4 linked regions of the Homo sapiens genome follow. The protein of the gene in region 3 interacts with the protein of the main gene of each other region in a biochemical or structural test. Each region holds a gene or a part of one and is shown on either strand. Other genes may lie near its edges.

The links.
Region 1: the proteins of RPTOR (region 3) and RAP1B form a complex in vitro, tested with the Homo sapiens proteins (one study listed by BioGRID).
Region 2: of the proteins of RPTOR (region 3) and CILK1, one has a biochemical effect on the other in vitro, tested with the Homo sapiens proteins (one study listed by BioGRID).
Region 4: of the proteins of RPTOR (region 3) and NLK, one has a biochemical effect on the other in vitro, tested with the Homo sapiens proteins (one study listed by BioGRID).

What each region holds. Positions count from the first base shown.
Region 1 is NC_000012.12:68,605,976-68,614,743, forward strand, and holds the start of RAP1B (ras-related protein Rap-1b isoform 1 precursor), read left to right. Parts: upstream 1-4,923; 5' UTR 4,924-5,068; exon of another isoform or gene 5,069-5,077; intron 5,078-8,768. UniProt on the Homo sapiens protein: GTP-binding protein that possesses intrinsic GTPase activity. Contributes to the polarizing activity of KRIT1 and CDH5 in the establishment and maintenance of correct endothelial cell polarity and vascular lumen.
Region 2 is NC_000006.12:53,016,191-53,025,065, forward strand, and holds part of CILK1 (serine/threonine-protein kinase ICK), read right to left. Parts: intron 3,170-8,875; coding exon 3,037-3,169; intron 2,312-3,036; coding exon 2,140-2,311; intron 61-2,139; coding exon 1-60.
Region 3 is NC_000017.11:80,959,857-80,967,762, reverse strand, and holds the end of RPTOR (regulatory-associated protein of mTOR), read right to left. Parts: intron 7,686-7,906; coding exon 7,558-7,685; intron 6,370-7,557; coding exon 6,283-6,369; intron 5,303-6,282; coding exon 5,186-5,302; intron 4,836-5,185; coding exon 4,706-4,835; intron 3,502-4,705; coding exon 3,433-3,501; 3' UTR 1,395-3,432; downstream 1-1,394. UniProt on the Homo sapiens protein: Component of the mechanistic target of rapamycin complex 1 (mTORC1), an evolutionarily conserved central nutrient sensor that stimulates anabolic reactions and macromolecule biosynthesis to promote cellular biomass generation and growth.
Region 4 is NC_000017.11:28,190,802-28,196,881, forward strand, and holds the end of NLK (serine/threonine-protein kinase NLK), read left to right. Parts: intron 1-219; coding exon 220-418; intron 419-1,318; coding exon 1,319-1,412; intron 1,413-3,780; coding exon 3,781-3,835; 3' UTR 3,836-5,580; downstream 5,581-6,080. UniProt on the Homo sapiens protein: Serine/threonine-protein kinase that regulates a number of transcription factors with key roles in cell fate determination. Positive effector of the non-canonical Wnt signaling pathway, acting downstream of WNT5A, MAP3K7/TAK1 and HIPK2.

The sequences.
Region 1 (8,768 bases), on a different chromosome or scaffold from region 3:
GTTGGAGGCTGCAGTGAGCCATGATCACGCCACTGCACTCCAGCCTGGGCAACAGTGAGACTCTGTCTCAAAAAAAGAGGAAAGGAGAGGAAAGGAGAGGAGAGGAGAGGGGAGACGGCGGCGGGGGGGGGGGGGAGGGCAGGGGAGGGGAAGGGAGGAGAGGAGAGGAGGGAAATCCTGATCTTGTAGGAAATATACATACACACATACACATTCTGATCTGGATTTTATCTTCTAGTATAGGCAGGACCAGTTACATAATTTATGGGACCCAGTACAAAATGGAAATTCAAGCTTCTTATTTAAAAAATTATTTAAAACATCAAGATGGCCAGGCGCGGTGGCTCACTCCTGTACTCCCAGCACTTTGGGAGGCTGAGGCGGGCGGATCACTTGAGGCCAGGAGTTCGAGACCAGACTGGCCAACATGGTAAAACCCTGTCTCTACTAAAAATACAAAACATTAGCCAGGCATGGTGGTGGGCGCCTGTAATCCCAGCTACTAGGGAGGCTGAGGCAGGAGAATCGCTTGAACCCGGGAGGCAGAGGTTGCAGTGAGCCGAGATCGCACCTCTGCACTCCAGCCTGGGCAACAGAGCAAGACTCCGTCTCAAAAACAAACAAAAAATCAAGATAGTGACATTAGAGCATTAAACCAATCATGGAACCCTTCTAAGTACAGGGCTCTGTACAACTGCATGCATGAGTCATATGCCTGTGAAGCTGGCCCTGAGTACAGGGCTCAGCAAACTATGGCCTACTGGCCAAATCCAGGCCGCCCCTGTTTTTGTGCACCTATAAGCTAAGAACAATTTTGACATTTCTTTTCTTTTCTTTTTGAGACAGGGTCTTGCTCTGTCACCAGAGCTGGAGTGTAGTGGCATGATCATAGCTCACTGTAACTTCAAACTCGACTTGGGCTTAAGCCATCCTCCCACCTCAGCCTCCCAAGTAGCTGGGACAACAGGCATGTGCCACCACACCTGGCTAATTTTAAATTATTTTTGTAGAAACAAGGTCTTACTTGTTACTATGTTGCCCAGGCTGGTCTCCAGCTCTTGAGGTTCAAGTGATCCTCCCACCTCAGCCTCCCAAAGCGCTGGGATTACAGGCGTGAGCCACCACACTTAGCCGATTTTCACATTTTTAAATGGCTAAAAGAAAAAAAAAAAAAAAGAACATTTCGTGACACGTTAAAATTACTTGAAATTCAAATTTTAGTGTCCATAAATAAAGTTTTATTAGAATACAGTCAGGTCTATTCTTTATGTATTATCTATGGCTGCTTTTGTCCCACAACTGTAGAGTTGAGTGGTTGCAACAGAGACCATCTGTCTGGCCCACAAAGTCTAAAATATTTACTCTCTGGCCCTTGACAGAAAAAGTTTGCAAATCCCTATTCACAGGAAGGTCAAACACAAGTGACAAAGAAAAGCAGCAATAAAATGTTTCAGGGATTCTAAAGAGAAGAGAATACATAAGGTTAGAAGTATCAGAAAAGAAGCTCTTTTTTTTTTTTTTTTTTTTTGAGACGGAGTCTCACTCTGTAGCCCAGGCTGGGGTGCAGTGGTGCGATCTCTGCTCACTGTAACCTCCGCCTCCCGGGTCCCAGTTCAAGCAGTTCTTCTCCCTCAACCTCCCGAGTAGCTGGGATTACAGGCATGTGCCACCATGCCCAGCTAATTTTTGTATTTTTAGTAGAGATGGGGTTTCACCATGTTGGCCAGCCTGGTCTTGAACTCCTGGCCTCAAGTGATCCGCCCGCCTCTGCCTTCCAAAGTGCTGGGATTATAGGCTACCGCGCCTGGCCAAGAAGCTCATTCTTAAGAGAAAGTAGATAAACCTTGAATAATGGGCAAGGTATTTGCAGAATGAGATGGAATGGGAAGGGGCATTCCAGGCAGAGGAAATCATTCACCTATGCACAACAGAGAGATGGGGAAGCAAATTATGTGGGCCAGATGAAAAGTCCACTGTCCATTCTGACTATAAATCAGTTTTGAGTGAAAGGAAAAAGTGAGACACAGGATTTTAATTTTATTTTGGTAGAGTGGGGAGTAATTGAAGGCTCTTTGAGGAAGGGAGTGACTTGCTTGGTATGCTTTAAGATAATCATCTGGCAACAATGTATAGAATGGATCACAGCAGGAACAGACTGGAGGCCACCAGGCTGCAAAGGTCCAGGGGATGAGTTCTGCCAAACTAAATTTGGCAACTAAAAACTAAGTATGGTCTTAGTTGAAATGGAAAAGAGGAAACACAATGAAAGACCTTGTCGAATTACTATCTAATAGATATGCCAATTGATGGATTATTCAAGAAGAGCAGAGAGCTAAGTATCAGGCTTGAAGATTGGGTAATTTAAAAGATGGTGATACAATTCACAAAGGAAGAGGAAAAGAAACTGGTTTGGTTACAAAGACGATGAGTTCAGTTTGCACACATGACCAGTGCAAATTGCCAGTGGAATATCCTGGAGAAGAAGTCAAGGAAATAAATAGGAAAGAGGCTCAAACTGAAAAGTGAGTTCAGTGTTAAGAGATGCAGATTATGGTATTCTCTGCATAGTGATAACAGTTTAATACAAATAACAATGATTTCCAGTCTAATAAGAGAAACTGTGTTTTTAATTAAATAGATTATTTTACACGTTCTCTCAAACTCTAAAAATTCTAGCTTCAATTTTCTAAAACCAATTTCTTTCTGGAAAAAAAAAATCAATTGCCCAAAGGACAAAGAGTTTTTCTAAAAAAAGAAAGAAAGAAAAAGCACAGTGTTCCCAGGTAACACTTCTGTGAGCTCAAAGTTTCAGACTTTCAGTTATCAAATTTTTATGCAATAACTGAAAAGTTAGTAAAGTCAAATTTATTTGTAATTCACTCATTCATTGAGAAGTTACAGTAATTCCAACGGACTGCTCTGAAATTTGCCTTTGAAACTTTTATTTAAAAAGGTTTTCTAAAGAATGGATGTTAAGTGTTCTCATAAAAAAATGCTAACTCAAGGCCAGGCGCGGTGGCTCACGCATGTAATCCCAGCACTTCGGGAGGCCCAGGCGGGCGGATCACCTGAGGTCGGGAGTTCCAGACCAGCCTGACCAACATGGAGAAACCCCGTCTCTACTAAAAATACAAAATTAGCCGGGCGTGGTGGCGCATGCCTGTAATCCCAGCTAGTCGGGAGGCTGAGGCAGGAGAATCGCTTGAACCCGAGGGTGGGAGGTGGGGGCGGAGGTTGCAGTGAGCCGAGATCACGCCATTGCCTTCCAGCCTGGGCAACAAGAGCGAAACTCTGTCTCAAAAAAGAAAAAAAAAATGCTAACTCAGCCGGCGCGGTGAGTCACGCCTGTAATCCCAGCACTTTGGGGGGCCCAGGCGAGCGCATCACCTGAGGTCAGGAATTCGAGACCAGCCTGGCCAACATGGCGAAATCCCCTTTCTACTAAAAATTAGCTGGGCGTGGTGGCACGCGCCCGTCATCCCAGCTACTCGGGAGGCTGAGACAGGAGAATCTCTTGAACCTGAGAAGCAGAAATTCCAGTGAGCCGAGATCATGCCACTGCACTCTAGCCTGGGTGACAGAGCAAGACTCTCAAAAAAAAAGGTAACTCTGTGAGGTAATGTAACAATGTATACATTACTTCAAACGATCATGTTGTATACACAATAAATGCAGACAATAAACAATTTTTAAAAAGATATTTTTCTAAGGAAATAGAAATTATCGAAATAGGTAATCTACTCAATTAACCTAAATTGTAAAACATTATAAAACACAGAGAACTGTTATAATTCATTCTCATCTATTCATTTAACTTAGGTTAGCTTAGTTTTCAATCACTACATATTCTTAAACGGAGTGAAATTAGTCACATTCCATTTATCTTCCAAATTTATCAACGTTTATTAAGATTTATTTCAAGAATAATTTGTACAGGGCCTAATTAAATTATGAACCAAGAAAGTTAGTCTTAAATGACCCCTCAATCCCTTTTCCCTGCACTTTGCTCTCTTAATCTCCTCGCCCATCAAAACTGCTTCAAGAAAAAGTTCTGATAAATTTCTTGTACTAAGGGTAAGTAAGAATGGTAAATTCCCGTGTTAAGTTCCCGCCCTTTTTGGAACGAGGCATTTTGGAACAGAAAGTGTTTTCTGGTGCCCTGAAGTCACACGATAAACCTACTTGCCTATGGGTAATCCTGTGAAGTGAATAAAGCGTCCAGGACATGCATTTAAATACGCAATTTATTTTAGTTATATAAATGGCGTTGGTTTAGGTGCAGGGTACAAACTTATTTAGAAATCATCGATTTGTTAACTGCGTTTGGCATGGGAATTTGGAAAGAGTTCGCCCGGGTTAAGACACCAATGGATAAAACACTTGTCAATCCAGGAGAAAAGGCATCTCAAGAATGGAAAGACTTGCTGGCCCAGGCTCCCTCGGGGAGCTCTAGGTGTAGAAAATGCGCGCTCTCCGTTACTTCTCGGTTACTTTGCCCAGCACAAAGGACGACGCGAATACCAACAGACTGGACGAGTCGGTGACTACAGTTTGCATTAAGAGGCGGCGCCTTTTGGGTTTCGGAGGGTTCCACTGGAACCCACGAGGGTCAGGAACACCGACGCGCGGATTCCGCCCACCAGACAGCCTGGGGAAGCGAGCCTGAAGGCGCGGCGCAGCTAGAGAGAAGAACCTCGGCAGACATGCCGCCCAGAGGCAGCTAAGGGGCCCGTGGGCAGGGCCTGCGCTCCGGCTGCGATGCAGGCCGGCTAGAGGCCGGCGCCGAGGACCCGGCGCGCGGCGGCCCCGCCCCCTCGGCTCCCCTCGCCCCGCCCCCTAGGCCCGCCCCTTCCCGGGCCGCGCACCCGCGCGCCCCGCCCGCGGGCGGAAGCTGGAGCGAGGCTGAACGCCTGACGTCAAGGCGACATCGCCAAACCTCGCCCAGATTCAGGCGTGTAAACCAGCCGGAGCGGCGCGGCAGCGGCAGGACCGCCGTGGCGCCTAGAGTAGCGACCCGGGGGGAGCGCGGGGCGACGCTGGCTGCAGGGACCCGGTGACAGCGTGAGAGGTTCGCAGAGTGAGTGCGTGGCCGCTGAGGGAAGCCGCGGCGGCGGCCGCGCGGGGCCGGGCGCCGGCTGAGGGGAGCGGGTGGGGTGCGGCGAGGCGCGGGCCGGGCGCGGCGGTCAGGGGCCCCGGCGGCGGCAGCCCCTCGGCGCGCGGCAGGTGGCGCGAGGGCCAGGCGCCGGGCCCGCGAGCGCGCTGCCTTGCGGGCCGGCGAGGAGGAGCAGCCGCCGCCGCCGCGGGAGAACAGCGCGCTTTGCGGAAGGGGTCAAATGTCTGAAATATGGCGGAGGAAGTGAGAGCCCGAGGACCCCCCCACCCGCCCGCTCTCTTCAGCCCGCGTCCGCCGCAGCTTCTCCCGCCGCCCTCCTTTCCCCGCCGGCTCCCCCGAAGACTCGCTCCCCGCCCCGAGCCCCCTCGCTTGTCGCCTGGGTTCCCTCCGTGGTATGGGTGGAAGTTAGAACGGAAACCAGAAAGTTGTCCTTTGCGAAGACCTAGCTTCTCCCAGCCCCGAGCTAGGGCGAGGAGCCTTCGGGGGAAACCACTCCCAGGCGCCCCGCGGGCTTGAGCCTGACAGCGAAAAAGTTTGCCTGAAACGGGGCTTGCTTGCTCCATTTGTTGCGGGAAGTGGCAGGAGGAAGGCAGCGGAGAGAGCCCCACTTAGTCTGGCAGCAGCCACCGTGTAGAGAAAAACTGTTAAAGGGGCCTTTCCCTTCGTCAGCAAGAGGAAATCTCTTTCTCTTAGAGGGAGAGAAAATCCAGGAAGTTTGTCCTCTTCTCTTTTTCGCCATCTCGAGGTGTCTAATCCTAAAACTATCAGCGCCATGAATTTTATTTAAAACTACGCCCAGTGAACCGGGCTCTCCGGATTTTTCTTCTGAAAAACACTGATGTCTTTTGGAGAAAAGATCATTTTTGCAAGTTAAAGCAGATGGTTTCCTTCCCCTTCGCTTTCCCCCCTCTCCCACTCTCTTTAATAGTTTAGAAAAACATTTTGGCCCTGTAACTTCTGATTGGTATGAATAGAAGCAGTTCTGTGTTGCAGTAAGGGGAAATCACATTTTTACGGGGTAGAAAGTTGACACTAAATGAAGATTGTGATTTTAGTATTTTAAAATTAATTCCGTCTAATTGGATTTTGGTTTTGCAGGCAGCATCTCATATATGTCGAGTACTTAACAATTTAAAGCTCTGACTTGTAAATTTATTTTTCAGCTCTCTTTTTTCGTAATTAGAATACTGTTTGGACTTGCTCAACAAGACCTTATCTTAACAAAAAGTAACTTATAGAAAAGGGAGACATTCATTTAACTTCAAGCCCATATTATTCTTAAAAGCTGACTCTTGAAATAGTATTTATTGAGTCATAGTGGAGTCATGGGACTTTTTAAGGGCCGGAAGGGACTATTTAGATCATCCAGTCCCACCCTGTCATTTTATGGAGGAGGAAACTGAGGCCTAGATAAGATAACCAGTTAGTGGGTCCACTGACCTTTAGGACAGTAGTCTATCCGTAAGAGACAACATGGAGAAAGAAATACAACGTTTTTATAGTGAATTATCATCTTACAAAGAATATTCTTCCCATATCGCACTTTTAAAAAGTGGGTACCTTAGTCAAATAGGAGAAAAAACCACTTGAGTAGTTTCATCCTCAGGTTTTAGGTGAGGAAACTGATACTCAGATTAAATAACTTTAAGCACACAGAGCCTGAATGATAGTCTTATTTGAGCTCATCTGTGCTTTTAATGTGTACTACGTTAGGTGTTTTCACTTGCATTTCCTTTAGTCTTATTTGAGCTCATCTGTGCTTTTAATGTGTACTACGTTAGGTGTTTTCACTTGCATTTCCTTGTTTGACGTTGACAATAAATCGTGAAGCTGCCTTATCTAAGGAAGTCCTAAAGTAAATCATTGGAACACATGTAGCCAGTTTGTTGTTTTTAATATGCCAGGTATCAAAATATAACTGAAGAACCAATGCTAAACTGACTTAATTTTAAAATGTTGTATGGGGCATGAAAATGATTGCTCTGGCTGGGCGTGGTGGTTTACGCCTGTAATCCCAGCACTTTGGGAGGCCGAGCCGAGGAAGGCGGATCATTTGAGGTGAAGAGTTCGAGAACAGCCTGGGCAACATGGTGAAACCCCGTCTTTACTAAAAATACAAAACATAGCCGGGTGTAGTGGCACGCGCCTGCAATCCCAGCTATTCGGGAGGCTGAGGCACGAGAATATGAACCTGGGAGGTTCACATTGAATGAACCAGCTTGAACCTGGGAGGCGGAGGGTGCAGTGAGCCGAGACTGCACTACTGTACTGCAGCCTGGGTGACAGAGCTAGACCTGTCTTAAAAAAAAAAAAAAAAAAAGGAGATAAGAAAATGATTGCTCTGCTCTCTTTTACATTCTCCCCTCACCCACGACCGCGTGAAAGTCATCTCTCTTACCTTCTATGACACGCATTACTTCCTGCCTCCTGTTACCATTTTATATTATTTATTCCATTGAATTGTGAACTCCAACCACAAGATATATATTGTTTTGTATGCCTTAACGCACTGGCATGGTGCCTTGCAATAGACATTCAACACCAGTTAAATGTAAGTACCATGAGGGTAGGGACTTAATCCATTTCATTCTTCACAGTAATCTTCCTAGCGCGTTGCCTGGGCACAGTGTAGCGCGTTGCCTGGGCACAGTGTAATGGTTAGCGTTTGAATTTAGGGATTAATGGTAATGAACATTCAAAGAGAGGATATTTGAAGAGAACAGTGTAATCCTTTAAAAAGAAACATTTACATATTGGCTTTGGAATCCCTTTTACTTGACAAATTAATTTTCGTTTTATCCTCAATCCTTTTCAGAATTCCAATATTTTCTCTTAGCTGTATAAAGGTAAAGTGACCCCCTCCCATAATAAAGAGCTACCATGTAAGGAGGGTATAGCAAAGAATTAATTATTAAAATAACTAGATCCATTTTTGTAAGGATCCTTTCAATTGTATCTTCCTATCTAATTCAAGATTGGTGGAAGGTCTATGCAAAGATTGATAACATGGTAACTGATTAGACATGTTATTTTAAATGCAGTCCAAGATTTGGATGAAAAGCTCACGTTCAGGTTTTTTTTGCCTTTTGTTGTAGGTACTCGATAAATATTTATTGAGGTAGTGAAACTAATCTGAAATTGGATCTGATACAGAGAATTTGACCGATTTTACAAGGTGTCCATTTACTTTTTCCCCATAAGTATTGTTTAAATAGGCTGTTTTATTATCGACTATCACACAGATCTTACTGATTTGCCTCATTTCCTTAAAGATGTAAAATAACTGTGTTTCTCTGTATGTTTGTGTTGCTAAAGAGGAGGTTGGGTATTGATCTGCAGTTTCTAGATTTGACTGGCACTAGGAGTAATTTAGCATTTATGAATTAGCTATTTACTGCTGTTTTATAGCAGTGATGTCACGTGTTCACTCTATAGAAAAGTTAGGTAAAGATTGGTCTGTCTTAAACTTTCTGAGACATAGGTTGTGACTAAAAATATGCCCTGGGTTTTCTTCCCCCTCCTGTCATTATTGAGGACTCCATGGTCTAAGAGATTAGGCTGAAGTTTTTGTTAGCCTTTTCAAATTGAATTGAATTTTAGAACAAGTTAAGACATTTTGGCTGATGCAGTGATTCATTGTAACATTGGACAAAAT
Region 2 (8,875 bases), on a different chromosome or scaffold from region 3:
ACACTGTGGCCAACGGAAGTTCATTGCACTTGAAAGTTGATAGCCTTCAGGCCAGTCAGTCTGAAAGAAGGAAAAGATAGAAAATCTTGCTCAGCCAATTGCTGTGATATAAGTTTGTATTCTGGCATGTGTGCCCCAAATGGAAAGGCAACCATGTCATTACCCACCCACATTCATTAACCACCCACATTCACTACTGTGGCACTGTATGGAATGAGACATAGATTTAGATTAATAGAGAGACCACCAAGACCATGAAATCTGGGGGAATAGTGGAAAAGACACTGGATTTGCCAACTTAATTATCTTTACATAAGAGATTCTCTTGAGATTTTGGGATTGAAACAAATTAATATTTCCCCAACTGTGTTCCATGAGACAGAGGTTCTGAAAACTGCCAATGAGATATTCTTTTGGGGAAAACAAAATAAAACAAAACATTTTGTTCCTGGACAAATAAATTTGTGAAACTCTACCTACAGTATCTTCAACTTGGTGATTGAAAGTATACATGTGGAGAAAACCAGCAGTAAAGAAAGGTGTTTCACCCAGTCTCAAGCTTTCCACTTTTTCATGCATCATTTCTATGGGACACTAAATGCTGGAGGGAATGATGGAAAATGCTAAAGAAATGGTCTTTAAGGTTCCTTCTAGTTCTAACACTCTACTATTTTATAACATACAGCCTAAGGTAATTGTTCCTCCACTCCTTTTTAAAGCCAAGTGGCAATACATATAGCTTTTATCGTTCATTCACTTGACAGTTCTGGAATGCCTACTATATGCTTAGTGTTGTTGGAGATCCAAAAATGATCCAATATAAATCCTGCGCTTAAGAGTATTACTGTTCTTAAAAGAGAAAAGAGCATTTATTTAAAAATGGTATAATGCAGAGTAAAAACTGACAAAAGCTGCAAGAGATGTGCAGGTACAGATATGCAGAGGAGAAAGATTCCAGCATTGGACTCAGGAAACTTTCTTGAAGAGGTGGCATTAATAATTCATTCAAATGATTAAAAAATTTTTTTGAGGATCTAGTTTGCACCAGCAATGGTGCTGGGACCTGGGAAAATAAACATACAGCAAATCCTTGTCCTGAGTGAGCTTATGGTCTAGGAAACAACTATGTACGCAAATAATAATATTAATAACATAGGACACAGCTGAAGATGGGGAGGAGATTAGAGAAACAGTGAGGAGGGGGATTACTGACGGCCATGTGACAGATATCACTCAGGCAGAGGGTGTTATGTGCAGAGCACAGAAGCAGGGAAATTTCAGGGCATGCAGCTGTTAGGTGTATAGGTATGAAGTGAGCGATAGGAATAGGAGTTATGAGGCTGGGCAATGGGGAGTCAACCAATACTTTTATGAGGGGAAGTCAGTACCAGAGCTGTTCTTTAGGAAGCTGAATCTGGCCACAGACTGAACAAGAAGCCAGAGTGAAAATACTTCAAGGCAGAAAGATGGGGAAGATGACATTAGACACAGGGGGGTGACTGTGGTCCAGTCTGTAATGGCAGCAGTGGACTTGAAGGAACAAGAGCCATGTGGCAATATTCAACAGGATTTACCCACCAACCGCTTAGATGAAGGGAAAGGGGAGCAAGAGAAAGACAGAAGGTAAAGCTGAAATTCAGCCTCAAGGTGGGGGCTCTGGGATTATGATCAGACCACAAATGAAAATGGAGAATGAAAGAAGGAAGCTAGTAGGGTGTTAAACAAAAGGCAATGATGAGTTTGAGGTGATGGTGAGGGAGTCAGGAGAAAATCCCATAGAGCGTTGTAAACATGTGAGTGTAGTAATAATGGAGGGAGGCAGCGGCTAAGGATTACATTCAGGAGACTTCTGAACAGGCGTAGGAGTTGTAGCAATGAGAACTGAGAAGTTCTGCAAGGGAGGTGAGATGATACAGAGAGGAAGGCAGAAGGAGCCATGACAGATGTCATACTTAAGAACAGGAGGAGGAAGAGAAGCCGACCGTATCTGAGAACGTGGGCAGTGGAGAATGACTGAGGTCAAGAGAAAGAGCCTAGAATGGGCAGGTGCTCAATCATGCCAGTGCTGAACAGGGCTGAGCGGAGGAAGCATGGGAAGCTGTTGGCTTTGGCCCACTGGCCTTTGTTTTGTATCATTACCTTTTTTGGTGTCCCCAGCACTTGGCAAATTTTGAATATTGTGTCAATTTCACTGGCTCCAGGGAAGAGTGGCCTGAGGGTGTAAACTTCTGCCATGATGCAGCCCACCGCCCAGACGTCAATGGGGGAGCTGTAGTTGGTAGACCTCAGGAGTACTTCTGGAGCCCTGTACCTGGAGGAACAAAGGTTAACTGCTAGCTATTGCTTCCACCACTCAGACATTAAATTAAATAACAATCAGTTCTCAGTGAGGGGGTGTATATGTTCCTATTTTCTCTCTAGTTCACTGTGGTGTAATGGAATTGTGAGAACTTGGCAACTGCCGTGGGCTGCTGTTGACAAGTAGTGCTTCTCTAGTTCACAATATTTTCTACTGAGCATTTCTCTACAGGAGACTTCTCTATGGCATCTTTGAGAAACACAGAGAAAGTAAGAATTAGGAAAAAAGAGAGAAAAGAGAAAGTGGAAGGGAAAAACTAAGAGAGAAAGGAAGAGGGAGGAAAAAACCTACAACTTGTGTGTAGACTACTTGGTCATGGCAAACTGCTTAAATCAAATTCCCAGTGTCTCAAAGTTTTCACAATAGCAATTAGATGGTTCTCAGACAGGTCTTTGCAGAATATTTTACATAATTCTTTTGTTAAGCTGTCCTCAGGAAGGCCTATATATAAAATTTTATTTACATTATAGAAAAGCATAATAGGTTTTCTTTTAACATGATTTAGAACACAAGATTTTTAACCTTGTACATTACCAACATATCTATAAATATATGTTTCAGACTGCACTGTTTCTCTTAGTGAAAAGTTAACATTTGTGACTTTAATATTATCCTTAGCATAATGATATCTTTTTAAAGAAGTGCAATTAAATAATTTTGAGAAAAATGGTATTCACCATCTGGTAGATACATAATCTGTATATGGAGGTTTTGATCGTATTTCTCGGGCCAAACCAAAGTCTGCAATTTTCACAAGTTCTGGTCCCATGCAGAGGAGGTTCTCAGGCTTTAAGTCTCGATGAAAGAAGCCTATAGAGACAGTAGAGGAGAAGAAATCCAAATGCAAGTTTGCTTCGTATTATTCTTTGCAATTGTATTGCTCTCTGCAAAATAGTTATAATTTAAAAAGTAGTCTGGCATGGCACCAAAGGCTTTATGCATTCATCCCACAGATAATGTAGAGTCCTTCGAACTTCTCATAGGATTACTACATTCATTTCCCTTTGCAAATCATTCAAAGGTGTTCTTCATAATTTTTTTTAACTAGAGAGAAAATTTCTTTTAAAATATCAAACTGGATTATAGGCTGAGATAACTTTGCAAAAATAAACTGTCACTCAAGGGAAAAATATCACTGACGGCATCTCATTCTATTGCCTAGGTTGGAGTGCAGTGGCACAATCATAGTTCGCTGCAGTCTGGGCTCAAGTGATCCTCCTGTCTCAGCCTTCCAAGTAGCTGGGACTACTGGCACAAACCATGGTGCCTGGCTAGTTTTTTTGTTTTTTTTTTTTTTGTTTTTGTAAAGATAGGGTCTTGCTCTGTTGCCCAGGCTTGTCTTGAACTCTTGGCTTCAAGCTATCCTCCTGCCTCAGCCTCCCAAAGTATTGGGATTATAAGTGTGAGCCACCATGCCCGGCCCAGATAACTGTCTGATGGGAATTGAGAGTTTATACCACAGCAGAAACACAATTATAATTTTTGTTTAAGAAATAATTTATGAATATGACCTACTCATATCTGAGATTGTGGTGTATGTTGCAACATATGTTTAAATGTTAAGTACTTATTACTTTGCCTAGTGAGGAAGTACAATGGTACATTTGCAGCTCACATGAAAGGCAAAGATAACTCATTACGTAGGAAGCCTGTCTCAGCTATAGCAGAGCTCTGGAGGTACAGGCAGGAGATAGTCAACATGGCAATCTTCCAAGCTCACTCAAACGCCCAGTGAATTGCAATATATGTCTCTGAAAACCCCAAACCTCCCACTTCCTGAGAGTATCACCAACCTAGACATCATTTAATGTGGCTCCAAATCTCAATGGGACACCAATACTGGAAATACAACTCAGCTGCTGCTGATGCTATTATTTGTTACACATTATCATTGCTATCATTACAGGCTGAGTATTCCCTACTCTGAAAATTCAAAATCTGAGATGCTCCAAAACCTGAAACTTTTTGAGCACCAACCTGACACATAAAGAAATTGCTTACTGCAGCATTTTGGATTTCGGATTTTTGGGTTAGGGATGTTCAACTGGTAAAATATAATGTAAATATTCCAAAATCTGAAAAAATCCAAATTCAGAAACACTGCTGGACCCAAGCATTTCAAGTAAGAGATACTCAATCTGTATCAATGTTGTGAAAGCTGGATTCTAACTAGCACATTATGGGAGAAATTAATAGCCATCACTGAAGATCTACACGATTCCTTGACAACCTGTATGTTGACAACGCTCAAGTCTACATTTCTAATGTGCCTTCTCTACCCTTCTGAAGACATAAATCTCTATTTGGACAGCAACTGGATGTCACTATCATCCCTATGTTAACTTATCCAAAACCACTTTTGTCCTCTCCCAAATCATCTCCCCTTCCTAACCTTTGGATAAGATTTCTAGGTACCTTGCAGTTATGTTGGATCCATCCTTACCCAGTTATGAGATTGTGTCGTATTTTCTATCAAAACATCTCATATCAGCTAGGCGCGGTGGCTCACGCCTGTAATCCCAACACTTTGGGAGGCCGAGGCGGGCGGATCACTTGAAGGTCAGGAGTTCGAGACCAGCCTGGCCAATATGGTGAAACACCATCTCTACTAAAAATATTTTAAAAATTAGCCGGGCGTGGTGGCACATGCCTGTAATTCCAGCTACTCGGGAGGCTGAGGTGGGAGAATTGCTTGAACCTGCGAGGTGGAGGTTGCAGTGAGCTGAGATCACACCACTGCACTCCAGCCCAGGCAACAAAGCAAGACTTCGTTTTGGAGCGGCGCGGGGGGGTTGGGGGGGTAAATCTCATATCTGTCTCTTTCTACTTTCTCACTGCCTATGCCTGCATTGCCACTTTCTTGCAGACCTTCCTTGCTCCAGCTTCTCTCCTATAATCCTGACCACTTAAACACTATCTTTCCCTTGTCACTCTCTCATTCACCCACAAAAACCATCCATGACTCCTTTTTATATTAAACAGGGCTGAACTCCTTTCACTCTACCTAAAGAGAGAAACTTATTTTCCAACACTTATCAATACATGTAAAGTGTGCTCCAATCAGGTGCAACTCCTCATTCTTTGTAAGTTCACTGTACAGTCATGCACTGCATAACGAAGTTTCAATTAATGATGGACTGCATATATGATGGTGGTCTTATTATAATGAAGCTGAAAAATCCTTATCTAGTATTCACTATACTATACTTTTAATCATTATTTTAGAATTGTACTCCTTCTACTTACTAAAAAAAAAAAAAAAGTTAACTGTAAAACAGCCTGAGGCAGGTCCTTCAGGAGGTACCTAGAAGGCTTTGTTATCATGGGAGATGACAGCTCCCTGCGTATTATTGCACCTCAAAACCTTCCAGTGGGACAAGATGTGGAGGTGGAAGGCAATGATACTCATGATCCTAACCCTGTGTAGGCCTAGGCTAATGTGTGTATTTGTGTCTTAGTTTTTAGCAAAAAAGTTAAAAAAGTAATAATAATAATTTAAGAACAGTAAAAGCTTATAGAATAGGGATATAAAGAAAATATTTTTGTATAGCCATATGTGTTAAGCCAAATGTTATTATAAAAGAGTCAAAAAGTTAAAAAAAGTATAAGTTTATGAAATAAAAAGTTTCAGCAAGCTAAGATTAATTATTGAAGAAAGAAATTTTAAAAATTTAGTGTATCCTTGGTGTACAGTGTTTATAAAGTGTCCTAGACCTTCATACTCACTCACTGATTCACCCAGAGCCATTTCCTGCAAGCTCCATTCACAGTAAGTGCCCTATACAGGTGTACCATTTTTAAAAAAATTTTTTATACTATATTTTTACTGTACCTTTTCTATGTTTAGATACACAAATACTTACCATTGTGTTACAATTGCCTATAGTATTCAGTACAGTAACATGCTGTAGAGGCTTACAGTCTAGGAACAACAGGCTATACCATATAGTCCAGCTATGTAATAGGCTATACCATCTAGGTGTGTCTAAGTAAGTGTACTCTATGATGTTTGCACAACAACAAAATTGTCTAACAACACATTTCTCAGAACATATCCAGTCATCAAGTGATATGTAACTGTACTTATTTCCATTAATAATGTGCCCTTTACTCCTTTTTGTCTACATCAATCCCAACTTTTGCCATCCTCCAACACCTGTTTTGAGTTTCGCTTCTTCCATTATGCCATTCTAACATGGTAGCCTTCATTCATTCATTCATTCATTCTACCAACACATTTTCACTGAGCATCTGCTCCATGCCAGGCAACAGATTAGGTTCTAAGGATTCAGAAACAATGCAATGGACATGACTCTTGCCCTCATGGACATAATAGGCCCTCCCCTCTAACTCCAGTTGAGCTCTATCAACTTCAGGTATGTTAACCATTTTTTTTTTTTTTGAGACGGAGTCTTGCTCTGTTGCCCAGGCTAGAGTGCAGTGGCACAATCTCAGCTCACTGCCAGCTCTGCCTCCTGGGTTCACGCCATTCTCCTGCCTCAGCCTCCTGAGTAGCTAGGACTACAGGCGCCTGCCACCACACCCTGCTAATTTTTTGTATTTTTAGTAGAGGCGGGGTTTCACCATATTAGCCAGGGTGGTCTCGATCCCCTGACCTCATGATCCACCCACCTCAGCCTCCCAAAGTGCTGGGATTACAGGTGTAAGCCACCGCACCTGGCTAACCATTTTTTATGAATTAGACAGAAGCACTTTAAGGGCAGAGGCCACATTTATATTTCTTATGAATGCCTGGCACAGTGGCAGGAGCACTGTGGTCTCATAATATACTCTTGCTGATTGAACAAAGGACTTTCGTCTGTAGGGAACATTAAACAGCTTAATGTTAACACATCTACCTGAGCCAAGCACCAGGGTCAACTAGAGAGCAAACCAGAGCTGTGAGGAGGATGGGAGGGAGGAAACCCATGAGACAGCACTGAGAACTGAGAGAGAACAATGACCCAGTAGTGCAGGGGACAATGAGGGCTCAGAGCTGGTTGTCCTTGTGACAGAGGGAGTTGTATTAGTTGAATGAATGAATGAAGGCAGGAACTCTAGTAGGACTAAATCTATTAGTCAAGGTTGTTTTCCAAAGACTGTCACTGCCCTAGAGCAAAGGGAGGGTGATTGTGATGTGGTTATATGTGAAAATACACTAATTGCCATTATCATGGAAAGGAACAATATTTTAGTAATAGGACAATCCTCTCTGTTCATCATTCTAAAGACAACAGTACTTAATACTGGGTCAAGTTCCAAATGGATAGTATTATACTATGGCATAATGGCGGATCTGTAGGAGAAGTAGCTGGCATAGATGGACAAAGTGAATGTAATTACAGAGCCTAGAACCCAGTAAATACAGAAGGGGATGAAGGTATAGAAGTGATCAGATACATTCAAGAGGGCATAAGTGAGAGGAGGAAGTACTTCCTTCCCACCACGGGGTTGCTTTTATTTTCCACAATCCAAGGCATTGATGAGATCAAAAAAGTTTGACATGGGTTAAACCAGAGACAGGCACAGCAAGTTTGCTATTTTATAGCACATGCATACACGGGTTTGTATGTATATTGTGAAATATTTATGAATATATATTCCACTGCTCATTCTTTATCCTGCCATTGTACTGGTACACACCTAATGGCCTTCCTCATACAATTCCTTGAAATATCCTAGTGAACTTAATAGTAAAATAAACCAAAATTATACATAAGAACCAAACTTGAGGTTGTCAACTCAACAAATGCAAAGAGCATTCAGTATCAGTCAAGAATGGCCTTTAAAATGAATGAAAAGATTTCTGATATGGACACATTTAGATGCTTATGATCAGCCTAATTAAAGATTTATTCATGCCCACCACAGTGGGTGACATCTCTAAGACTTAGCATAACTGAGTCATTGTGTTTGGACCCTCTGTTCTTCAGAGCACCCTCCAGCTTGCAGAAGGCCTGATTGTGTGTTTCCATTTTGGAACTGGCTTAAGAATGTGTAAGGATACAAGCAGTGATTACAGTGATCTTTGGTCAACGCACCTGTGACCTCTGAAAATAGATGAATTGTGAGACCATGGTTTGTCTTCCTAAAAACTCAGAGTGTTCAAAACATTCCAGTGAAAAAAAGGAATGGCAAGCATCATTTTCTTACTCCACAGATGGGAAAACTGAATCATGGTGGCAGGGGGCGGTAGATGAATTACTCCCAATTCCACCAAGAAATGTGTCATAGCTATTATAGTGTCCAGCTCTACTCTCCCTTTCAATCCATATAGCTAAATCTTTTTTTTTTTTTTTTGTAAGACAGAGTCTTGCTGGTCGCCCAGGCTGGAGTGAAGTGGCACCATCTTAGCTCAATGCAACCTCCACCTCCCGGGTTCAAGCAATTCTCATGCCTCAGGCTCCCAAGTAGCTGGGATTACAGGCCTGCACCACCATGCCCGGCTAATTTTTGTATTTTTAGTAGAGACAGGATTTTGCCATGCTGGTCAAGCTGGTCTCCAACTCCTGGCCT
Region 3 (7,906 bases):
GGGGCGGGGCTTGCACAAGCAGCACCTGTAGGTCCCGAGTGCGTGGCTCCCCCAGCCCCAACACACCCCCCAGCCCAAGTGGTGGAGTAAAGGTCTCCGCACATGGCCTTGGGGTGGGGTTAGGACCCCAGTCCCTGCCACCACCCAACAGGCAGGGCTTTGGGCAAGCTACTCAGTGCCCGAGACCCAATTTCTGGTCGGCAGGTGAGAGGGGCCGGGGGGACAAGAGCCTGTTCCCAAGCTCTCCAGAAGTCAGGCCCCTGAGGTGGTGCAGTGTGGCTGACATGACCATCCCCACGGACCCTTGCCTCCCACTCGCCCCGCAGGACCATGCCCAGGCCCGTTGCCTCTGCTGTGGCTTCCACAACATTCCCCCTGGCTCCCAATCCCTGCACGGACCTTGCTGCTTGGGAAAAACCTCAAGGGACAGGCCATGACCTGCAGAGCAGAGTGTGATCTGGAAACGGGAGCCTTTCAAGAATTGGCCAGACGGGGACAGGCGTGGTGGCTCACGCTGGGAGGCTGAGGCAGGTGGATCACCTGAGGTCAAAAGTTCGAAACCAGCCTGGCCAACATGGCGAAACCCCGTCTCCACCAAAAATATAAAAATTAGCTGGGTGTGGTGGTACAGACCTGTAATCCCAGTTACTTGAGAGGCTGAGACAGGAGAATCGCTTGAACCCAGGAGGTGGAGGTTGAGGTGAGCCAAGATCGTGCCACTGCACTCCAGCCTGGGTGACAGCGTGCGATTCCATCTCAAAACAAAAAGCAAACCCAAAAAGAGTTGGCCAGAGGGATGTGCAGATGTGATTAGGGCTAAGGACCCACACAGCCCGAGGTGGGTACGGCCCCTAGGCCTGGAAACACTTCTGGCCTGCATGAGAAGTGGTGACGGTGGGCGTGGGTCAGAGGCCCTGAACTGGAGGAAGGGGCCACGAGCCAAGGAGAGTGGGGGCCTCCAGAAGTGGGGAGGAGCGGGGAAGCGGCTTCTCCCCCAGGAACTCTGACGTGGCCCAGATTTCAATGCAGACTTGAATGGGGCCTCTAACCGTGAGAGGATAACCGTCATTTTAAAGAGAAAGACACGTGTCTGGCCTACGTCACAAGATGGCTCTTGCCACACAGTACGCTCCCTGATGTGGGGTCTGCGCCACAGGGCTGGGGGCACTGCCTGGGAGAAAAGGACCGAGACCTTTGCACACTCGACGTGCCAGGCCCCCTGTGGCCACAGTGCCTGCCTGGAGAGCACCCGGGACGCAGAGCTGCTGGTGGCCCTGGGGACAGCAGGGGGGACCCGGGCAACGTCCCCCCACCCCCCAGAGCTCTGCTCTGACCGATGCCCCCCTGAGGTGGGGTGGGCAGTTTCCTTAAAGACACAGCCGCCAGCCGCGGAGTCTGCGCGTGTTGTTTACTGTTGGTCACTCTCTGCTCTTAGCTTCACATTACCATTTCGTGTTTTGTCAAAGTCCGTCTCAATTCGCGTTTGGTAAAATAAATAGATAATGAGCCTCTAGGCCGGCGCTCTCTCGAGCCGGTTAACGTCGTGATTGAATTTTCACATCAGACCTGTGAAGACAGCCCACGTGCAGGCGGCACGCGGTGCCCATGGGGGTGGGCTCCAGGGTGGAGCGGGGGCGGGGGGGGGTCTTGACCCCTCTGGAGCCACCTGCCTTTTGACAGGTGGTGATTTTGTCTCAAAACAAACAGAAACGCGTGTTGGGTAAGAATTGAGTTGAAGGACTGGATGGGAAGCTGCGTGTGCGGGTGGAGCTGGGCTTCTGGAAGATTCTGGTGTTGCCGCCTGGCACGCCCTGTGAGCTGAGTGAGGCCGGGACTCTCTACACCTTCCGGACCCGGGCTGCTTTCTCGGCCCAGACGTGGGGATGGGATTCGTGCCGGAACCTTCTTCTGGTGGGAGCTCGCATTCCAAAAAGGAGCAGCGGAGGGGCCGCCTCTGTCCTGCCTTGTCACGTCCCGGCCAGCCCCAGCTCAGTCTCCAGCTCAGCCCCCTGAGGGCCAGGTGTGTCTCTGGCCAAATGTGACCAGGCAGGGTTCCATCCACCCAGAAGATGCTCTTGGCCACGGCAGGCCACCAGCCACACCGCAGGAGAGCCGGGCCTCGCCACACCAGCTCTCACTCCCGTGGTCGTGGGCCTCTCACCGCCAGAATGAAGCCACCTGGCTCCTTCACCTCTCAATAATCCTGATTCCCGACGAACACGGAAAGAACACTTTTCAAAATACCATCATTGTGGTTGTGTTCTGTTTGCAAAACTGCTCATACACGCCCTGCGGCCCCTCCTGGGCGGGACTGTCCACACAGCTCCTGTCTGCACCACAGGCCCAGCTGTCAGCCGAGGTCGCATCAGCATGGGCGGCTCAAGGCTGGAGACGGGGCTGGTGTCACCCGGAGCCGTCCGGGACCCGGCAGTGCCTCTTGCCTGTATGTGAGGAACGTGTGGGGACAGAGCAGGGAGACCACGCCGCCTGCATGTGTGTGCCCCCAGGTGCCGGCCGTGGTGCCATCTGCACATGCGTGTGCTACACCTGTGTGAGGGCACAGGCATGGAGACCACAGGTCGGGCTGCTGTCCCCGCGCCTGTGGGGAAGAGCAGCCCTTCGGAGGGAAAGGAGCCCCGTGGATTAAGGCAGGGGCTACCTCGCCAAGGACCTGCCTCCCCTGTGCACCGCCACAGCGGCCCCTGCTGACAGCTCTGTGTGAGAGGGGCCAAAACTGGAGTCCAGAGACCTGGAGGTGCGGGGAGGGTGGGCTGTGCGCTTCCTGCTCAGTGATGCTGCCAGCGGCCAAGGACAGCCCGGACCCCTGGGCGGCTTCCTTCACACCCGCCAGTTGGAGGGGCGTCTCCTTCTTCCTCTCTCTTGGTTTCCCGAATTTCCAGTGTCCCCCAGCTGGCTAGGAAATGTCCCTGCTTGCGTGCACTGACTGTGAGAGGTGGTGGGCCTGGCTGGGGCAGCGCCTCTCGCTCGCTCTTGGCCTGATGGGGACAGCTGCCCCAGGGACCCGTAGGAGCCCCAGCGCCTGCCTCTCCGCCAGGGCTCTGTCGGGGGGTTTTTCTGCAGCTAATGCTCTGATTACATGGAAATAAAGTGAGGTGTTTCCCCTTTCAGCGTCTCAGAGAAACACAGAACAGGAGAGGGACAGAGGCGCCGTGGCCGCGGGGGTGCACCTGGATGCTGGTGCTCAGTGGGAAGCCACCGTCAACCCGAGCCCTCCCCTTCCCTGACATTCCAGACACGACAGCGAAGACAGACAAAAGCGAGTAGCAGGGCCCTCCTGCCGTCATCAGCAGCTAAGGCAGCAGCCAACGTTCACACTGCGGGGCCGCAGCAGCCGACGCCCCGTGCCCCGGCGAGTGACAGCTTCACTATGTACAGCAGGCGGCCGTGGCCTGGTGGGCCCGGGTCACGCCGCTATCTGACACGCTTCTCCACCGAGTACACGGAGATGTAGTAGTCGTTGCTTCCCACGGCCAGGTGAGGCTGCAAGGAGAGAGAAGGGGTGAGCAGGGGTTCAGGTGCGGGCAGACACTGCGGGGGGCGGGGGGGCGCAGGCCAACCCGCATCCTTAGGCAGCTCCTGCCGGGGTCTCAGGAACCCCCACGCCCACCTCAGGCCCGGAAATGCCGGGCCGGTCCCACCAGTCCTCTGCAGGGCCCATGCATGGTGCACTCCGTGAGGGGCGTGGCGCTGCCCCGGGCCCTGCGTGGTTTTTTCAGGACTGCCCCACGGGGCAGCTCTGGGATCCAATGTCACACGTGTCAGCAGAGCTACATGCCTGGAGCCTCACAACACAAGGCGGCAGGTGGGCAGAATCCTAATCTAAAAACAACGGCCTGAAGCCACGTGGGGAGGCTGCAACCAAGGCCAGAGAGCCGTGCAGGTGGGGCCCGGCCGCACAGGGGACAGGGTGAGGACTCGGCCGCACAGCGGACGGGGTGAGGGCCGCAGAGGGGACGGGGTGAGGGCCGCAGAGGGGACGGGGTGAGGGCCGCAGAGGGGACGGGGTGAGGGCCGCAGAGGGGACGGGGTGAGGGCCGCACAGGGGACGGGGTGAGGGCCGCACAGGGGACGGGGTGAGGGACGCAGAGGGGACGGGGTGAGGGACGCAGAGGGGACGGGGTGAGGGCCGCAGAGGGGACGGGGTGAGGGCCGCACAGGGGACGGGGTGAGGGCCGCACAGGGGACGGGGTGAGGGCCGCAGAGGGGACGGGGTGAGGGCCGCAGAGGGGACGGGGTGAGGGCCGCACAGGGGACGGGGTGAGGGCCGCACAGGGGACGGGGTGAGGGCCGCAGAGGGGACGGGGTGAGGGCCGCAGAGGGGACGGGGTGAGGGCCGCACAGGGGACGGGGTGAGGGCCGCACAGGGATGGACACCCCGAGCGACTCTCCTGGAGGTCCCCAGGGATGGCTTTAGTGCAGGGTCTGAGGGCAGGAGCTTTGCCCCAGCCACTGTGTGTCAATTCCTCCCGGAGTGACGGGACTGGGGCTCTGCTTCCGGGGCGAGTGCAGGGTGGGGCAGGGGCCCTAGAGATCCTGGGACCCAGGCAAGTCCCTCCCTCAGGCAGCCAATGGGCCCCACTGTGGTGTGGGGTAGCCAGGCAGGACCCCTGCTGCCTTGTCCCCTTGCCTCCCATCCCTCTACCCCAGCCCCCGACCCCCGACCCCCACCCACCGCCACACTGACCCAGTGCGGGTGGAAGGCCAGGCAGCTGATGGCGCCGACCCGCTGGCCCATGAAGCCGTCGTAGTACTTGATGTTGTTGATGAGCTCTCCGCTGCTGTTGTAGATGGCGGTGAACTGATTGACGGAGCCACTGTGGGGAGAGAAAGGGTCCCGGCATCACTGCCCTCTTCTTTGAGGATGGAAGATGGGCGCAGATGCCGAGACCGCGGGGACAGGCCGGCTAGACCACGGGGACAGGCTGGCTCGGGGCAGGTGTGACCCTCTGGTCACTCTCACTGAGGACTCGGGCCTGGCAGGGCCCTGAGAGTTTATCCTGGGAGGATGTGGTGGGCAGACATCTTTTGTTTTTATGTCCCCACAGCAGTGAAATCCTCCCCTGCCCTCCTTCAGCTCCTGGGGGCAGGAACACAAGAGCCTCCCGTTTGCACAGAGGCCCGAGGCGGGTGAGCGGTGCAGGCCAGGGAGGTGGGTGGCGCCTACCATGCGATCAGGTCCGCCTGGGGGTGGATGTCCAGGGCCGTCAGCCCCTTCACGATCTGAAGCACATTTACCGACTCAGGCATCCGGGGATCAAAGATGCGCACATCTCCATTGACGCTGCCAAGAGAGGGTCACAGTGACACCTCCTCCCGGAGGCCCCATGAGGGGCCTGGCCAGGGGGACGGTGGAACCAGGTGTGTGGGGTCGCACACCTGTTTGCACACACACTGCTCAAGGAAAAAGCTGCCTGGATGCTCAGCGTCCCCAGTGAGGGCTGCCCAGGTGGGGCCCAGACATGCACCCATACTGGTCTCAGGGCCAAGGCTGTCCCCCACAAGCTCTCTCAGAGCCAGAAAAGGCGCGGAGCTTTCTGGCCTAGAGAAATGACCATGAGCACAGATGCGGGAGGAGGCTGTGAGCTCCTGGTTTCATTTCCAGCTAGAGATTAGATTTCATGCAACCGGGGCCTGCAGTCCCGGGAGACAGAGCCTGGATGGCAGGCTGTGGCCCGAGAGAGGGATGGCCTGGCCCTTTTGAGGCCCCGTGGCTCCTGCCTTCCACCCCCAGCAGGCGTCCATCCCAAGAGTTATGTTTGGTTTTTATATCACAAACAAGGGGGAAAAGAGCATCTCTTTGAAGAAATGCTGGCTTTGCATTCATAAATTACATCTTGCTCTTCCTTTAATAGGCAAATAAATATTCCCTGCTCTTGGTGCTGTATTTACCAAGAGGCAGAACTGAATTTATGTGCAGACAACTGCCACGTGCCTGGCAGACGCGCCGCCCCTGCCACCCTGCCACCCCTGCCCGTGGAGGGAGAGCAGCTGCCCAACTCCCCCCGGAACCCTCCGCAGTTGGCAGCCCAGGAAAGTTCCCAAAGCGCCTGCAGGTCAGGTGTCCCCCAGCAGGGGAGCAGCTGTGGCCCCTGGGCCCCTACGGGCTGCGCCTGATCTTTCTGGCCAGTTCCAGGGCAGGAGTTAATTACTGCCCGAAATGCCATCCCCTTCCAGCTGTTTAAATACCAAGGACGTATTTTAAATGGAGGGGAAAATAATGTTTTTACAGCAGAACGGCTGCTAAATATCGGCGCTCCTCACCTCACACTCACGATGTGGCCGTCGGGACGCTTCTGCAGGGAGGCCTTCACCACCCAGGCTGTGTGCTCCCGGTACGTCATGACGCGGCTGTAGGGGAGGGGGCACGCTCAGCGTGGGGCTTCCCTGAAGGACGTCCCCACCCTTCGGGGCTCTCACCGGGAGCTGCCCAGGTCTGCCTGTGCCAGCGGGTCCGCAGGCCCTCGCCCGTCCGCTCCCCACGAGGGGCTAGTGCTCACGCAGGGTCAGAGCCCCCTCCAGGTGACCTGCTCCAGCAGAGACCCCCTGTGTCCTCCCCAGGCTGGCTCAGGGCTGGGCCCTAGGTCACCGTCAGGCCGCTGGAGGACTGTCTGAGCCACATGGAAGCTGCCCAGAGACGGGGGCCAGGCGGCCATCGCAGCGCTCCCAGGCCCTGCCCACCCTTTGCTTTGCTTCCCTCAAAACTCCTCATTGTGTCTCCCCGATCTGTGCAGACTGGAGGGTCAGGAATGAGAATCCCAGACCTAAAGCTGATGAAGCTGGAGGCACAAGGACCTTCTGGGAATCCTCGCTCTGTGCTGGGTGAAATTTACTTCTGCTGCATGAGCCGTGTGGGCCAAGACGGACTGTCCCCTGCTAGGCCCGGACAGCACCTGCCCACGGGGGTGCTCAGCAGAGGCAGTGCCCGGGGCTGCTGTGCCCACGCGTGTGCCCTGTCCCCTGCCAGACATGGACAGCACCTGCCCACAGGGGTGCTCAGTGGAGGCAGTGCCCAGGGCTGCTGTGCCCATGCGTGTACCCTGTCCTCTGCCAGACGCGGACAGCACCTGCCCACAGGGGTGCTCAGTGGAGGCAGTGCCCAGGGCTGCTGTGCCCACGTGTGTGCCCTCAGACATCCCTCCCCAGACACTTGCTGCATGACCCAGGAGGTGGCAGGCAGTGGCAGTATTCTGTTCAGGTGAGCTCAGAGGTGGCAGGTGCCTGGCTGCGGCCCTGCCTCACCCCGACAGCCTCTGCCTCCAGTCCACTGGCTCATCCCACATGGCCTGTCCCCTGTGCTCCTCCATAGGCTGTGGGGTGGACCTCTGTGGGGCAGACCTTTGTGGGATGGGCCTCAGTGGGACGGGCCTGGCGGCTTTGGGGAGCCCAGGACTGGCCTAAATACGCCACTGCAGGCTCCTGGGGAAGCTTTGCATCTCACTGAGAAACCTGGACCCAACCAAATGGCAGTGACACGGCCCTACCACCTGGAAGGTACCCTGCCAGCACTCGGGGAGGGAGAGGACAGGGTCAAGGTACCATTCGCTGAGTGCCATCCTTCTGTCGTAGACGCGGATGGAGCCGTCACCGAGGCCAGCCACGATGAGTGAGCGGTGGGAATCACAGGACAGACTCGTCACACAGCTGTCTGCGCCCGTAGGGATGTCCTAGAGCCAAACACAGGCAGCCCGGTGAAGACCGGGGCACCGAGCCACCCTCCCTGCTGTCCTGCAGCGCCAGGACCCCTCTTGCTGCCTGCCTGGCTGTGGGGATCACCCTCCCTGGCTGCAGGGGCCTTTCTCTCTATCCAGGGAAGCATCAAAGGCCTGGGGAGCCCAGGAGTCCCAGGGAGAGGCAGGGGCTGGCAGGACAATGAGTCACGCCCTTA
Region 4 (6,080 bases), about 53 Mb from region 3:
TACTTTGTGATGGTAGATAATAACAGTAGTTGTCCTAAATCATACACTCCCTCTGCTGCTATGTTACCCACCTCTAAATTCAATTATCCCTCTTTGGACGGGATGTACTATAAATTATATATATGCTATGTCAAGCAGTTAATGTGTCTTTTGAAAGATCCTATGTGGACAGTCATTTTATCTGTAGTGTTGATGTGCTGGTCTCTAATTTGATTTCAGTCCAAAAGAATATCCGCTAAGGATGCCTTAGCCCACCCCTACCTAGATGAAGGGCGACTACGATATCACACATGTATGTGTAAATGTTGCTTTTCCACCTCCACTGGAAGAGTTTATACCAGTGACTTTGAGCCTGTCACCAATCCCAAATTTGATGACACTTTCGAGAAGAACCTCAGTTCTGTCCGACAGGTTAAAGGTGAGTATCTGTTTTGGCCTTTGGCCAGGCAATATGCCTAGTAACATTTTCCATTAGGTGGCCATGAAGAGCTGAGATCTGGATGGTAACCAAAGCTCCCCTCTATGTTTATTTTACAACCTTGCGTATAGCTGTGTGTCCGGGGCATAACAAAGCATATTTAATATTATATCCAGGGGAAGGTCGGGGAGAGGAATGAATATTTTGTTCTTATTTTCAAAGTTTATTTAGTGAGTATGACTCAAAATATGTTTAATATGTATTCACTCAGTGTCATTTCATTGATTCAAACGTATTGAACTTTATATAACATACAAAGTTCCATAAAGGATAAACATTCACTGAGGGAATTATTCCTTGGACGATGACAAGAGAAGGGAATTTCTGATAGTGTACTCATAAAATTTTGTGGCAGGATCTCCTATTGGAATACAGTGGGAGTAATGACATCCAAAATTCTGAGTGATTTTAGTGTCTACTGTAGGACATTTTACAAGAGAGAGAGTAGTCCCCAAAGTAACCACCTGAAACTATACACCTAGATACCAACTGAGGTCTTTAAGTGATCTTCAAAAAGGCAATAATTGCCAGCAACTTAGAAGAGTTCACCCATAATGCCAAACCTGTGGAGTCTCTCTCAAATTTATAGGCCATTTTACTCTTCCCACTGATGGGGTTGCAGTCTGTGTAATGCCACCAGTAGGTTTCTTATATTTAGCAACAGCTGTCATTTTAGTTTTAGGAAGTTCAGCTGAATTCTGCTTGATAGATGATGTGTGTGTTTGATTTAACTAAACCAGTAGGCAGTGCTTTTCAGATGCTGGCTAGAGTTCGCTGAGAATTCACTGCTCCCGGGCTTGCAAATTGTCATGGATTGTATGATGTTTGTTTTCTCCACAGAAATTATTCATCAGTTCATTTTGGAACAGCAGAAAGGAAACAGAGTGCCTCTCTGCATCAACCCTCAGTCTGCTGCTTTTAAGAGCTTTATTAGGTAACTATATGTATGTAATTCAACATTCTTGTTAGAATTAAAAGGATGCCAGTGTTACTTCATTATTCAGCATATTTGTTTTTATTTAGATAACATAGATAAAAGGTGCAACAGAAAGTTTCTGTTATGAGGTTTGGCTTTAGTCAAAAGTGTATTAAAACTGTAAGCATCTGGGCTGGGCGCGGTAGCTCATGCCTGTAATCCCAGCACTTTGGGAAGCCAAGGCAGACAGATCACCTGAGGTCTGGAGTTCAAGACCAGCCTGACTAACATGGAGAAACCTTGTTTCTTCTAAAAATACAAAATTAGCCAGGCATGGTGGTGCATGCCTGTAACCCCAGCTACTTGGGAGGCTGAGGCAGGAGAATCACTTGAACCCGGGAGGCAGAGGTTGCGGTGAGCCGAGATCGCACCATTGCACTCCAGCCTAGGCAACAAGAGCGAAACTCCATCTCAAAAAAAAAAACAAAAAACTGTAAGCATCACATTTTACACTGGTGCCAGTTCACTGCGGTTGCTTTGGCAATTTTTTCCCCGGATGACCATTGTGCTGCCTCATCACATATATGGCAGTCCTGCTGCAGCATTAGTATGGTGGCCACCTGTCCTGGAGTTAGACGTGGTCATCTCAGTTCCCACTACCATTCTCACTCCCTAGTAATAACTGCAAGCAAGAAAATAATTTTTTTGTGTGTAGGTGGACTGCTGGTGTAGCCTATTTAGAGGAGAAGTCAAAAGGCATATGGTAGAGCTATGAACCTACATTGGAAGTTACCAGGCTTCATTCTCCTTGTCTGTCTGTCCTTTCCTTCTCTTGATTTCTTTTTCCTTAACTCCTTATATATTGATCAGGGTCTAATCGGGAGAAATAAACCACTTCCCTAGAATACAAACGGGGAAAATTCAGTAATAAGAACTGTTAACTAGGAAAGATGATCAACTGCTAAAAGGCATAAAAGAGGATTCTGAAGGCTGCTGAAGTAGCAAATGCAGAAAGCAGCCACTCCCTGTAGACTGAGGGAGAGTAAACAAGAAAGGAATTAAGAATTTAGAAGAGGTTCCTCATGTAAGGACCTCTTTGGAGAGGGTATGGCTGCCACAGGAACTGGAACACACAGCACGAGGGTGGTGCAGAAGAGGAAGTGTGCCAGAAGGTGTGGCCAGAACTGGTCCATCAAAGACTGCCTGCCAGGAGAGTTCGGGTGGACCAAAGCTGAGCCTTCCACATGACCAAAAACAGGCACAACAAACCAAGGAAGGGAGACTGCTTCCTGATGCTACAGCCTTGCAAATGCCCTTCCAGCACCCTCTGTTGACAAAAGCTAACATTAAGCTAGGTGGCAAAGGGGAACCATGAACAGGGTCTGGCTCCAGTATCACAAAGCAGGACAAAGGGTGGATTCGGATATGAGTGGTCACACAGTCTCTATCTTCCCCGCTGCCTTTCTCCTCTCCTTTTTCTCTCTTCCTGCTGCCCTTTCCCTTTAATCATATTAAAGTTGGTTGGATTTGTTGGACCACAGTCAAGATTTTATGCTTAAAATTTGCAAAATCAGGTGACTTTCATTTCTTCCATGTATTTTTCTATTGGAAGAAGGAATTAAGTTGCACTTTTACTTATCTGTGGTTTTAAATTACTTTGTTTTACTATTTTCCCCTAAGAGTCAGTGACCCAGTCAGTTAGGCAGTTTAGCAGCTTAGGTGCAAATGATCCTGGGCCTTGGGGAAACAAGGGGTTACACTTTTCCCTCTCAAGTTTATAATCTAATTAGCAATCTTAGACATAGGAAAAAGCCAATAACAGATCTAGATCACCAATGCTAAATGATTACCTATACTTCTCCATTAATACTTGATAAAAGAATGCTTATAAGGCCCATTCAAAATAGGCCACTGTATTTTGAGAGGCTACTTTTAAATGGATGATTCTACATCCCTTAAGGTTATTTTCCTGATTGATTATTGAAATTATTACTTGTAATACCTACATTTACTTTACACTTTGAAGTAGGCACTGTGGAAAATACTTCACATCTATTATCATTTATTCATCCCAGTATCCTATGAGGTAAACAGCATTATTTCTTTCCAAATGAGAAGAGATTAAGGCACTTGCTCAGGGCCATACAACTAGTAAATGACATGTGGTTTTCAAGCCTACATATTAGCCACTATACCAGATTGCCTCTCCATAGATAACAGGTCCATAAACAAGCAACTTAGAATAAATTCAACTTCAAAGAAACAAATAAAAATCCAGAAGTGGAATTAATTTTTTCAGAGGAAGAGAGGAAAACAGGAAGTAGTGAATTACCCTTTTGTCCATTGTGACATTACAACTAATTTCTCCATCTCTGTTTTCTTCCAGTTCCACTGTTGCTCAGCCATCTGAGATGCCCCCATCTCCTCTGGTGTGGGAGTGATGGTGGAAGATAATGTACTACTGAAGATGTAATGTAGCTTTCCACTGGAGTCTGGGATTTGCAATTCTGGAGGTTAATCATGCTTGTACTGTAATTTTACTAATGAAGTTTTAAATTAACAACCACTACTTGTATGATATGAATAATATTTAGAAATGTTACTAGACTTTTAATCTTGTAAAGTGGTTGTGCTTTTAGAAGAAAAATATTTTACCCAGAGTTGCACATGTTTTATGAATTTAGTGCAGCTGTTATGGCTCACCTCAGAACAAAAGAGAATTGAACCAAATTTGGGAGTTTGGGGTTTTATGTTTTGTTTTTCTTTTCTAAAATGAAGTGAGATTGTTCACACACACACACACACACACACACACACACAAACACAAAGGACAGTCATACATTTTGATATTTGAGCCATTCCTAAAGATTTGGGGTTTTCTAAAACTAAAGAATCTAGGAACCTTGCCTGCGACCAATCATGGAGCCACGTGAGCTGATCGTGGCTGCACCTGGGGGGAGGGTAGGGAGGAGGGGCATGCCACCTAATGATCAAGCCCTATAATTAGCTTCTCATTAGAGCCGTGATGGTGATGTGTGCTGTCTAAAATCCAATGTTGTGGGTAGAGAGAATGAGTTTGTGACTAGGAGAGACTAAACTTTTGTTTTCCTTACCCAGTATAAATATATATATATATATTTAATCTATTTTTATTAGAAGTTTTTCTGCTCTTTCTTACATAAAAGAACCCCAAGCATGCATCTTTCATGTGTGTAAATAATTCATTTCTGGGCTAATTTCAAAAGAATCCCAATATTGCTGTATAGAAAGAGAACTAGCTTGCACATTTTAGGTCTGTGAAATTTTGTGAGACTTTTCCTGCACTGGACAGTAAAAAAATAATAAAAGACAAAAACAAATTTAAAAAAAAATTTAAGCCACAAAAAAAGGCACATAGGGAATTATGTCAAATGTGTTTGTGTCCTTAGGCAAAGCTGTGGGAGTCTTGAAATGTCACAGTAGTAAATAACTTATTACTTTTTGACAAGTTCTTTTTTTCTGTTGGAACACTGAATTCTTCTGTGCATATGTACATATGAATACAAATCGAAGGCCTCTACCTCCTGGAGTTATACAACTTGGCTTGTTTACCTCCACATGCTGATGATGACTATTTTTTTTTTTTGAGTTCAGTGTGGAGACTTGAAACTTGAATGTCCCTTCCAACTTTTATATTAAAAATAAAAAGACAAGAAAATTGAAGATCATTTTTCACCTGTACAAGGAATACTAATGGATCGTCTTAAAATTGGTCTAGGAAAAAACCTTGGTGTGTGTTATGGACAATTAACTGTTAAAGTTATTGTAAGTTATCTGTATTTAGCAGAGTATTTTCAACTTGAGTGATCTGAGCTGAATTTGAAGACTATTAATAAGTTATGTTTGGAAGTTTTAACTTCAATGAAGTAATTATTTGCTGTGAAAGAAACAAACATTGAATTACTAAACAAAGATGGTGCAATATCTTTGTTTTTTTTTTATGAGGCTCCTGAGAATCAACCCAACTGAAGCATTTCAATTCACTTGAATGAGAAACGTGTTTAGTATCAAAAGAGCCCAAGAAGACACTGGTGTGAAAGGTACAATCTCAGAGGTTGGTCAATTACCGTGGCACACTTTCTGGTCACTTTGTACAATGTAGATTTGAAGTACAGTGGTGAAAACATTAAATGTGACATTTGAAAAAGATGTGTCATCTGTTTTATTTCAGTTTCTTTCCTTTGTTTTCTCTTCAGTACAGCTCGTATCCTGACTTTGCAAAGTTTTGAGACACTTCCTATTTATATTTCCACTTTGATCTTTGAGGAAATTGGTTGTTTTTAAAAATCTTCTCAAAAACTTTAGATTGACAAAAACATATTGAAAATTTAGTTAAATCAATATCAAAGATGTGATTTAAATATACACAATAGAGAAGTCTTTTTAGACCTTGGAGTCTCTAATCCAGTGGTTTTCAAACTTTTTTTTCTTTGAAGCAATATCTTGGAGTCCAATATATTAAATACATAAAAGTAGATTGCTCTGTATGAAGCAGACTGGTAAAGGGACTTGACACCTCCCTCCTCTTCACTTCTGCCTCCTGCCTCTAGCAGCCCAAAGGTACTTTCAGCTAAGGAAGAAGTCCCAGCCCAGTGGTGGTGTAATCAAGGCCTGAAACCAGACTGCCTGACTTCAAAATACTTTCCC